Regions from separate parts of the Homo sapiens genome. Here regions 1 and 2 are each linked to region 3. The links come from fine-mapping of genetic effects on gene expression. A gene starts in region 3. Each other region holds a variant in brackets. All regions are shown on one strand. Distances are between the middles of the regions. Region 1 overlaps ILKAP (ILK associated serine/threonine phosphatase). Region 2 has its middle 7.3 kb from the start of ILKAP. Region 3 holds the start of ERFE (erythroferrone).

What was found. PIP is the estimated chance that this variant, and not a neighbour inherited with it, causes the effect. A credible set is the group of variants that fine-mapping cannot tell apart.
Region 1: its variant is the best candidate, but not a certain one, in a credible set for the expression of ERFE in whole blood (TOPMed, PIP 0.60).
Region 2: its variant is fine-mapped to the expression of ERFE in whole blood (TOPMed, PIP 0.93).

What each region holds. Positions count from the first base shown.
Region 1 is chr2:238,179,843-238,182,510 of GRCh38, forward strand. ILKAP (ILK associated serine/threonine phosphatase) reads right to left here. Exons shown (of 12, transcript NM_030768.3): 9 at 2,223-2,344. Among named protein-coding and RNA genes, the nearest start is that of ERFE, 22 kb to the left of the region's middle. The variant C/A (reference allele first, on the strand shown) is at 1,141.
Region 2 is chr2:238,209,642-238,212,309 of GRCh38, forward strand. No RefSeq gene overlaps it. Among named protein-coding and RNA genes, the nearest start is that of ILKAP, 7.3 kb to the left of the region's middle. The variant C/T (reference allele first, on the strand shown) is at 1,536.
Region 3 is chr2:238,157,779-238,160,446 of GRCh38, forward strand. It overlaps ERFE (erythroferrone), which reads left to right and starts at 1,192. Exons shown (of 8, transcript NM_001291832.2): 1 at 1,192-1,427. The coding sequence starts at 1,230. RefSeq lists a silencer at 1,170-1,239.

The sequences.
Region 1 (2,668 bases), 22 kb after region 3:
TGACTCTGTACAACTGCTGGCCTATAACATGGTTCAAAGCCTGGTAAGAAATGAGTCTCGGCAGGGTGCAGTGGCTCACACCTGTATTCCCTGCACTCTGGGAGGCCAAGGCAGAAGGATCACTTAGCTCAGCCTGGAAAACACAGACAGAGACCCTGTCTCTACCAAAAAATAAAAAAATAGCCAGGCACAGTGGCACATGCCTGTGGTCCCAGCTACTTGGGAGGCTGAGGCTGGAGGATCGCTTCAACCTCAGAGGTCAAGGCTGCGGTGAGCTGTGATCGTGCCACTGCACTCCAGGCAACAGATCAAGATTCTCTCTCTCAAAAAAAAAAAAGAAAGAAAGAAAAAGAAAAAGAAAAAGAAATGCCAAGTCCACGGCAGACATGGATGCTGACTAGACCCTGGTTTGAAACAAAGATACTTTGGGGATAACTCGGGAAATAAAAATATAGACAGGGTATTAGATAACTTAACCTAAGGAAATATTATTGTCTTAGGTGTGAAAATTCTCACTAATTATGTCAAGAACGTCCTTATCTTCAGGAGATGCATGCTTAAGTATTTAGGCTGTTATGTCATCATATCTGCAACTTTTAAACAGCTCAGCCTGACACACATCTATACAGACTAAACATGACACAATGTTCACTGCTAGTAGATTTGGAAATGTTTTACTATTGTCAAGTTTCTTCTGTATGTCTGAAAAATTTAATGATAAAAGCTGAGAGTGGGGCAGCCAGCCCTGGCCTCAGGCAGGAGAACAGACCACGACAGGGCTCTGCTGCTCAGGGGCAGCGACCCACGCTGCTGGTCTCTTAGCCTCAGCCCTTCTCTGAGATGAAGGAGTCACCCAAAACCCACACTGTCAAATGATTTCTCTAAGGCATGTAAACACTTCTCTGAATCAGGTAAGGACTGGGATATAGGAAGCAACTGCAACACAACTGGCCTTACTTTCAGCCATCGGACTGTCAGTATCCAATTATTTTCAAGGAGTTCAGGCAAAAGCAGAATGAATGTAAAACTTACAAGAAAGGGGAGAAGAGGTGATGCTTACGCTCATGTTAGAGTCACATTCTCAGGCATGACTGTCCACAGTAGTTACCAGGACAGTAGTTACGGTGGCAAAAACTGGGC[C/A]AACAGCACTGCTTGAGGCCTGAAACCAGGCCTATAATCCCATCACTGCTCATGTAAACTGCAGCGACCGTGAATGAAACTGCTTCTTACTAATCCAAGAGCTTTTTGAACAAACGCTAAGGGTTCCAACTACTCTCCAGAAACCTCCCTGTACCACTGACTAGATTCAGCCTGGAGCAATAAAAAAGGCTTCCCCAAATGAACAACAGAAGAGAAACTACACTTCAAAGGATAGGTAAGTGCAGTCTTATACTAAGAGATGACATCTCTCTTATCTCTGGCAGAAAATAAAATTTTAATAGTCAAACTGTACAACAAACCAGAAAATACTCCTGGTCTAATTCATAATGCAATGTCCTTGAAGTGGAATTCTAAAGAAAAGACTTATGCCCTCCTTTAGCTGCCTTGGATAGAAGCAGATAATAAAACCAGAGCAGACATATGGTTTTCAAAGATTTAAAGAGAGAGTGAAATGAAACTGCAAAAGACAGAGCCAAGTAAGACATGGTCCTCTGTGCCAGTTGTTCCCAAGAAGTCCAAAGACATTACTTAACCCGTCTTAACTACTTCAGATTTTCTCTCTGGAGAATTCACCTAAAACTGTAACTTATTCAATGTGAAAAGTGACAGGTTTTTTTTTTGGTTTTTTTTTTTTTTTGAGATGGAGTCTCGCTCTGTTGCCCAGGCTGGAGTGCAGTGGTGCGATCTTGGCTCACTGCAAGCTCCGCCTCCCAGGTTCACGCCATTCTCCTGCCTCAGCCTCCCGAGTAGCTGGGACTACAGGCGCCCGCCACCACGAAAAGTGACAGTATTTAAGAAACTTCCTAGGCACAGAGAAAACACTGTGAATGGTAAATATGAATTTGTCCTTTTGCAAATGTAGGGAGGCAAGTTTCCTTCCACGTGGACACATGTGAAATCTACAACTGTCATCCACCTATGTCACCAGTGTTAGATCTCAGACAGAGCCTCGTCACACTGAAGACTACGTAACAGGGGAAGTTCTACTCCTTGAAGGTCTCGGGACCCTTCTACAGCTAACAGCCCTCCTTCCCATGAGCTCCTCTCAGTCCCTTGGTTACCTGACGTTTCCTCCAGCCTTCTGTATCCTCATCCGCTCTTCATACTGAGTTGGATTATGCTCTTTGCTGAGGCTTAAGGCTGCATGTTTTTGACTCTCCTCATTATAACGACACAAGATTGCCTGGGAAGATGGAGATTGTAATAGTCATGAAATTCAGTGGGCGCAGCATCTAAAGGTACCAGTTGAAAAAAACAGTTAACAATGGAGTTTGAAGAAAACAGTTAACAATGGAGTTTCACATTCAGCCTCCTGCTGATAAACGTAAGTTCAGAGAATCAAGCAGCAAAGAAGTGTCAAAGACACAACAGTTAGGGAGAGAGTCGCCCCTGGTTTTGATATCAACTCTGGTACAAACTCTGCTGAATAACTACAGACAAGTGCTCACTCTGGCTGTTGTCACATTTGTGACATGAAAGGAAGCACTCAACAAGTATCAAGGTCCCT
Region 2 (2,668 bases), 52 kb after region 3:
AATAGACCAAGGGCCTGATTATGAGAACTGTGTAAATACAGATTAAAAGGTCTTAGGGGGTTTGGAAGGCCTAAAGTGGGGGCCTGTAATAACACACGTTTTAGGTGAGAGAAAGCATGATAAAGATCTGGGGTGGGAGTGAGGAGTTGGTCAAGATTTTCTTTTGTGTGTTCATAAAGGGATATAGCAACAATGGCAAAATTTGCTATCCATATTTGGAAATATCCCACTAATCCGAAGAAGGAAAGTAAGTCCCTTTTTGTTTTAGGAAATGGGATTTGTTGAACACCTTGCTTTCGTGCTGACAGAATTTGGAGTTATGATAAGTCCTGGGTATGAAATTTTTGAACTTTTCTTTTGGATACCCAGTACCCACATTCAGCCAAAAAATGTAAAAGCTTGGTGATGTGTTGAATACAGTATTCTAGGGAGGGGGTGCAAAAGAGTAAATCCACATATTGAAGCAAAATGCTGGGTTGTAGAGGTAGTTGGGAGAGGTCTAATTGAAGTGCCTGACCGAAATAGTGAGGGCTGTCCCTAAACCCCTGGGGGAGGACAGTCCAGGCGAGTTGTTGGGAGTAGCCTGTGTCAGGATCAGCCCAAGTGAAAGCAAAAAGGTTTTGAGAGAAGGGATGTACAGGGATAGTAAGAAAGGCATCTTTGAGGTCTAATACAGAGGAGTGGCTAGTGTTGGGAGGAATTCGTGATAGGAGGGTGTAGGGGTTTGGGACAACGGGACAAACAGGAATAATAGCGGAGTTGATTTGTCACAAATCCTGGACCAGTCTATAGGAGCTGTCTGGTTTTTTAACTGGAAGAATAGGAGTATTGTGGGGAGAATGGGTGGGGATTAAAATACTGGCACCCAAAATCAGGATATGATGGGCTTGAGTCCCTGCAATCCATCAGGGTTGAGGGGACAATGTTGGAAACACTATATAGTGCTTAGGATTCTTCAATGAAATTTGGGTTGGAGAATGGTGGGTAGCTATTATGGGGAAGTCAGCGTTCCATATGATGGGGTTTACATGGCTGAGAAATTTGAGATTTAAGTCTGTTTGATGTGGAGTGTCTGAGGAGGGCTTCTGTTCTTGACATAATAATAAATAAGGGTGTCTTTGGTGTAGGGCCGATAAATGAATGATTCCCCCTGTTTGTGTAGAATATCCCTTCCTAATAAGGGAGTGGGACAGTGAGGAATGACCAAAATAGAGTGAGTGAGGATGACTCCCTGAAATGAGCAGTATAGAGGCGGTGTTTTATATGGGGTTTCTTGTATGCCCTTCATACCAACACAGAAATGGATGAACGTTCTAACGGGCCTTGATAGTCAGTTAATACCAATAGGCTAGCCCCAGTATCCAAAAGAAAGGAAATAATCTTACCAGATACAGTCCCAATTACCCTCTGGGTTCTGTGGACTCACTAGACATGGGGGCAAAGAATCCTGGGTACCTTCAGTCCTCTGCTGTCAGCACCAGCAGTGAAGAGATTTCCTCCTGTGGATGGCTGGGGGACTTCATTATGAGCCACAC[C/T]GAATGGGGAAGGTGTCCCCATTGGGGGCAGTCCATTTTCCAGTGTCCCCAAAGACCACAAGTTGAGCATGGCTTGGTGGAGGGCTGGGGGTTAGGACAAGCCTTTGCCCAGTGTCCAGGGTTGCCACATCGGAAACAGACTCCCAAAAAGGTGGCAGAGTTTCCTTTTGGGTTATCGGGAGGCTTTTGTGTGATTGACTTTTGGACAGCAGAGGTGAGCATCTGGTATTTTAAATGGAGATGCTTGTCTTTTTGAATTTTTGGTTCCTCATCTCTGTTGTTAAAGACACAGAAGGCTGCATTTAGGAGGTCCCACCGAGATGTCTGGGGACCCTCTAGTTTTTGTAATTTTTTTTCTGGATATCTGGGAAATAAATTGGAGGTAGAAAAAGTTTGACCTTCTCTAGATTCTGGGTCCAAATTGGTATATTTTAGCATAGCTTCAGTGAGGCGTGATAAGAAGAGGGCAGGATTTTCCTGGGGCTCTTGTGTAATTTAACTTTTTCTTTTTTTTCTTTCTTTTTTTTTTTTTTTTTGAGACAGAGTCTCACTCTGTTGCCCAGGCTAGAGTGCAGTGGCGTGATCTCAGCTCACTGCAACCTATGCCTCCCGAGTTCAAATGATTCTCTTGCCTCAGCCTCCTGAGTACCTGGAATTACAGGTGCCCGCCACCATGCCCAGCTAATTTTTGTATTTTTAGTAGAGATGGGATTTTTTGCCATGTTGGCGAGGCTGGTCTCAAACTCCTGACCTCAAGTGATCCACCTGTCTCAGCCTCCCAAAATGCTGGGATTATAGGTGTGAGCCACTGCACCCAGCCTCAAAAAACCAACTTTTTACCTCATTGATCTTTTGTATTGTCTTCTTCATTCCAATTTCATTTCTTCCTGTTCTGATCTTTATTGTTTCCTTTCTTGTACTAACTTTGGCTTTTGTTTGCTCTTGCTTTTCTTTAAGATGCATCACTAGGTTCTTTATTTGAAGTCTTTCTTCCTTCCTTTCTTTCTTTCCTTTCCTTTTTTTTTTTTTTTTTTTTGACAGAGTCTCACTCTGTCGCCAGGCTGGAGTGCAGTGGCGCGATCTCGGCTCACTGCGAGCTCCGCCTCCTGGGTTCACAACATTCTCCTGCCTCA
Region 3 (2,668 bases):
TGGTGCCCCTTTCAGTCCCTGCTGCCACATCCTGTGAACCAGGACAGGGTAAGGCCTCCTTTCCCCAGCGGGCTCTTCTCAAAAGAGTTCCCCGGGAACAGCAGCCCTCGGTGTGAGTGTAAGGTACTTTTCCAGCGGAGCCTTCTCCCGTTCTTTAACAAAAAGCACTGTGTACCCACCAGGGGCAGGTGCCTCGGGGGTGGGGCAAGCGAGCCAAGTGTGCGACCCTCCTCGGCTTAGCGTCCAGTGGTGGGGCAGATAGTCAAAAGGGCATGCGATATAACAAAGCCAGGGGTAGGGTGGGGCTGGGGCTGGCTCTTTCCTGGTAGGGCCGCCCAGAGGCCTCTCTGCCACCTTCTCCGAGGCCTGCAGGGTCTGGTCCACCTCTGGGGGCACTGATTCCGGTGGGCGGTGGGCAGCCTGGCTTCCGGTCTGGTCTGCCCCCACACCCCCGCTAGGGCACGATAGGGGTCAGTTCTCCCAGCCCAGGCCCCGCTCAGCCCCACCAGGGCAGGGCGGCTGTCCTGAGTTGTTTCTTGGCTCCCTGCGTCTTCTGGGTCCCGGCAGGTGCGACAGGTGGGGAAGAACAGTGAATCCCTGCGCTCAGAGCACGCCAGCCATGGACGGAGGGCGGCCTGGAAAGGGGAGTTCCCGCCTGGGAAAGGGGCGCTGAGAAGGGGCCCTGAGGGTCTCCCGGCTCAGATTTGCTCCACCTGTGTCATAGAGGCCTGGGCCTTGCGGGGCGCAGCCAGGAGAATGGGGAGGGGGTACCTCGGGGGTCCCTGCAGAGGACGTGGGGGACAGAGCGGGGAGAAAGGATGCCTCGAGCCGTCTGGGAGGAGGCAGCGCCTGGCTCCCCGCAAAGAAAATGGGGTCGCGAGGGCCGAGGGTCCAGGGCTGGGAGAAGGGGCGCCTCGCTCCCCAGGAAGCAGAAGCGCTGGACAGCGCGAAGGAGGGATCCCAGAACCAGGAGTTGCAGGGGGGACGCGCCCAGCAGGGGAACACCCCTCGCTCTCCCTGCCCTGCCCCGCTCCCCGTGCCCCCTCCCCCACTCCCCCTCCCCCGCCCGGACACTCCCCCCATCCCCATGCAGCGCGCACGGGAGCCGGGAGGGGGCGCGGGCGGGCGCGCGGTCTCGGGCGAGGCGGGGGATTCAAGCGCGTTATAAGGCGAGGAGCCCGGGGCGTCCGAGACGCCGCGCTCGGAGCCGCGAGGGAACCGCCGCCCGCATGGCCCCGGCCCGCCGCCCCGCCGGAGCCCGCCTGCTGCTCGTCTACGCGGGCCTGCTGGCCGCCGCCGCCGCGGGCCTGGGGTCCCCGGAGCCTGGGGCGCCCTCGAGGAGCCGCGCCCGCAGGGAGCCGCCGCCCGGGAACGAGCTGCCCCGGGGCCCCGGGGAGAGCCGCGCGGGGCCGGCCGCTCGTCCGCCGGTAAGACGCCCGGGCCCGCTCCAGACCCAGCCCGCGCCCGCACGCCCCGGCTCGGGGCGGCGGGAGGCGGACGTGGAGGCCGAGCCCGCCCTCACCCCCGAGGGCTGCTGCATCGCCTGGCACCGGGGCTCCGGGGCTCCGCAGAGACTCAGGGCCGTGTAGACGCCGCCCTCAGCCCGGCGGGGCAGCCTTGACTTTGGCTTTGGGGTAGTTTGACTTAAAGCAAGGTTCTACTAGGTCGGCGAAACCCCCCTTTTCTTTTGGGACAGAAGGAAGTTGGGAAATAGATAAAGTGTAAATAACTTGATTTGAGGAAATTGGGAAGAACGCATTTGTAAAAAGTGTAAGCGAATTACTGCCACCGCCCCCAATCTATTTGGTGCAATTATCTGGAAAACAAAAAGTGTTTTCCTGCGGATCTGGGGTCGGGGGGCTGTGCAGGGTGGGGAATGACATGTGGCTTTGAGTCAAGTGATCAGGTGGCTTTTGGCCGTGAGTGGGTGATCTTGAGCTCTGCCCTGCCCCCTCCTCTCCAGGGTTTTGGAGCCTGGACTGCTGAGCAGAGGGTGGTCCGGTTGGGGAGGTGTGGCCCAGGCCTGAGGAGGGGAGAACTTCAGAGGAGCCCTCAGTGTGGCCGGGCCTTGGGTCAGGGAGACAGGGCTGCCCCAGGGAAGCCGGGGTGGGCGGCCGGTGCTGTTTATTCTGAAGATGCTCAGGGGCAGTAGAGGGGAGAGCCAGGAACGCATCTACTAGAGAGGACAGGGGTGCAGCCAGGCCTGGGGTCCCCCAGAGTTCTCTATCCCGGCCCCATCACACCCAGCCACTTCCCAGGGACTGAAGGCACCCCCTCCCCGTGCAGTTGGCCAAACCACCCAGGTGGGCACAGCAGCCAAATGTCAGGGCACTGTCAGCAGGAGGCAGACGGGGCTCAGGGGCTTCCAGGTGGAGTTTTGGCCTTGGACCCTGTTTGTGGGGGACACAGTGACACCAGAGGTCCTCCCAGGCTCCAAGGCTTGTTTCTGAGAGACCCCTTGTGGCTGGAACCAGGGCAGCTGCCCAATACCCACCCCCATTGCTGGGGCCGTCTCCTGGGACGCCACCTTCTGCCTGTTACAGCTCTACCTGCAAACCACACTGGGGTCAGGGTCCGGCCACAGGCCACAGGTGCAGCTGGGAGGGTCAGCTGGGCACACCCCTCCTGGCCGGTGTGCGGCATCCTCGCCCCATGTTTCCACGGAGGG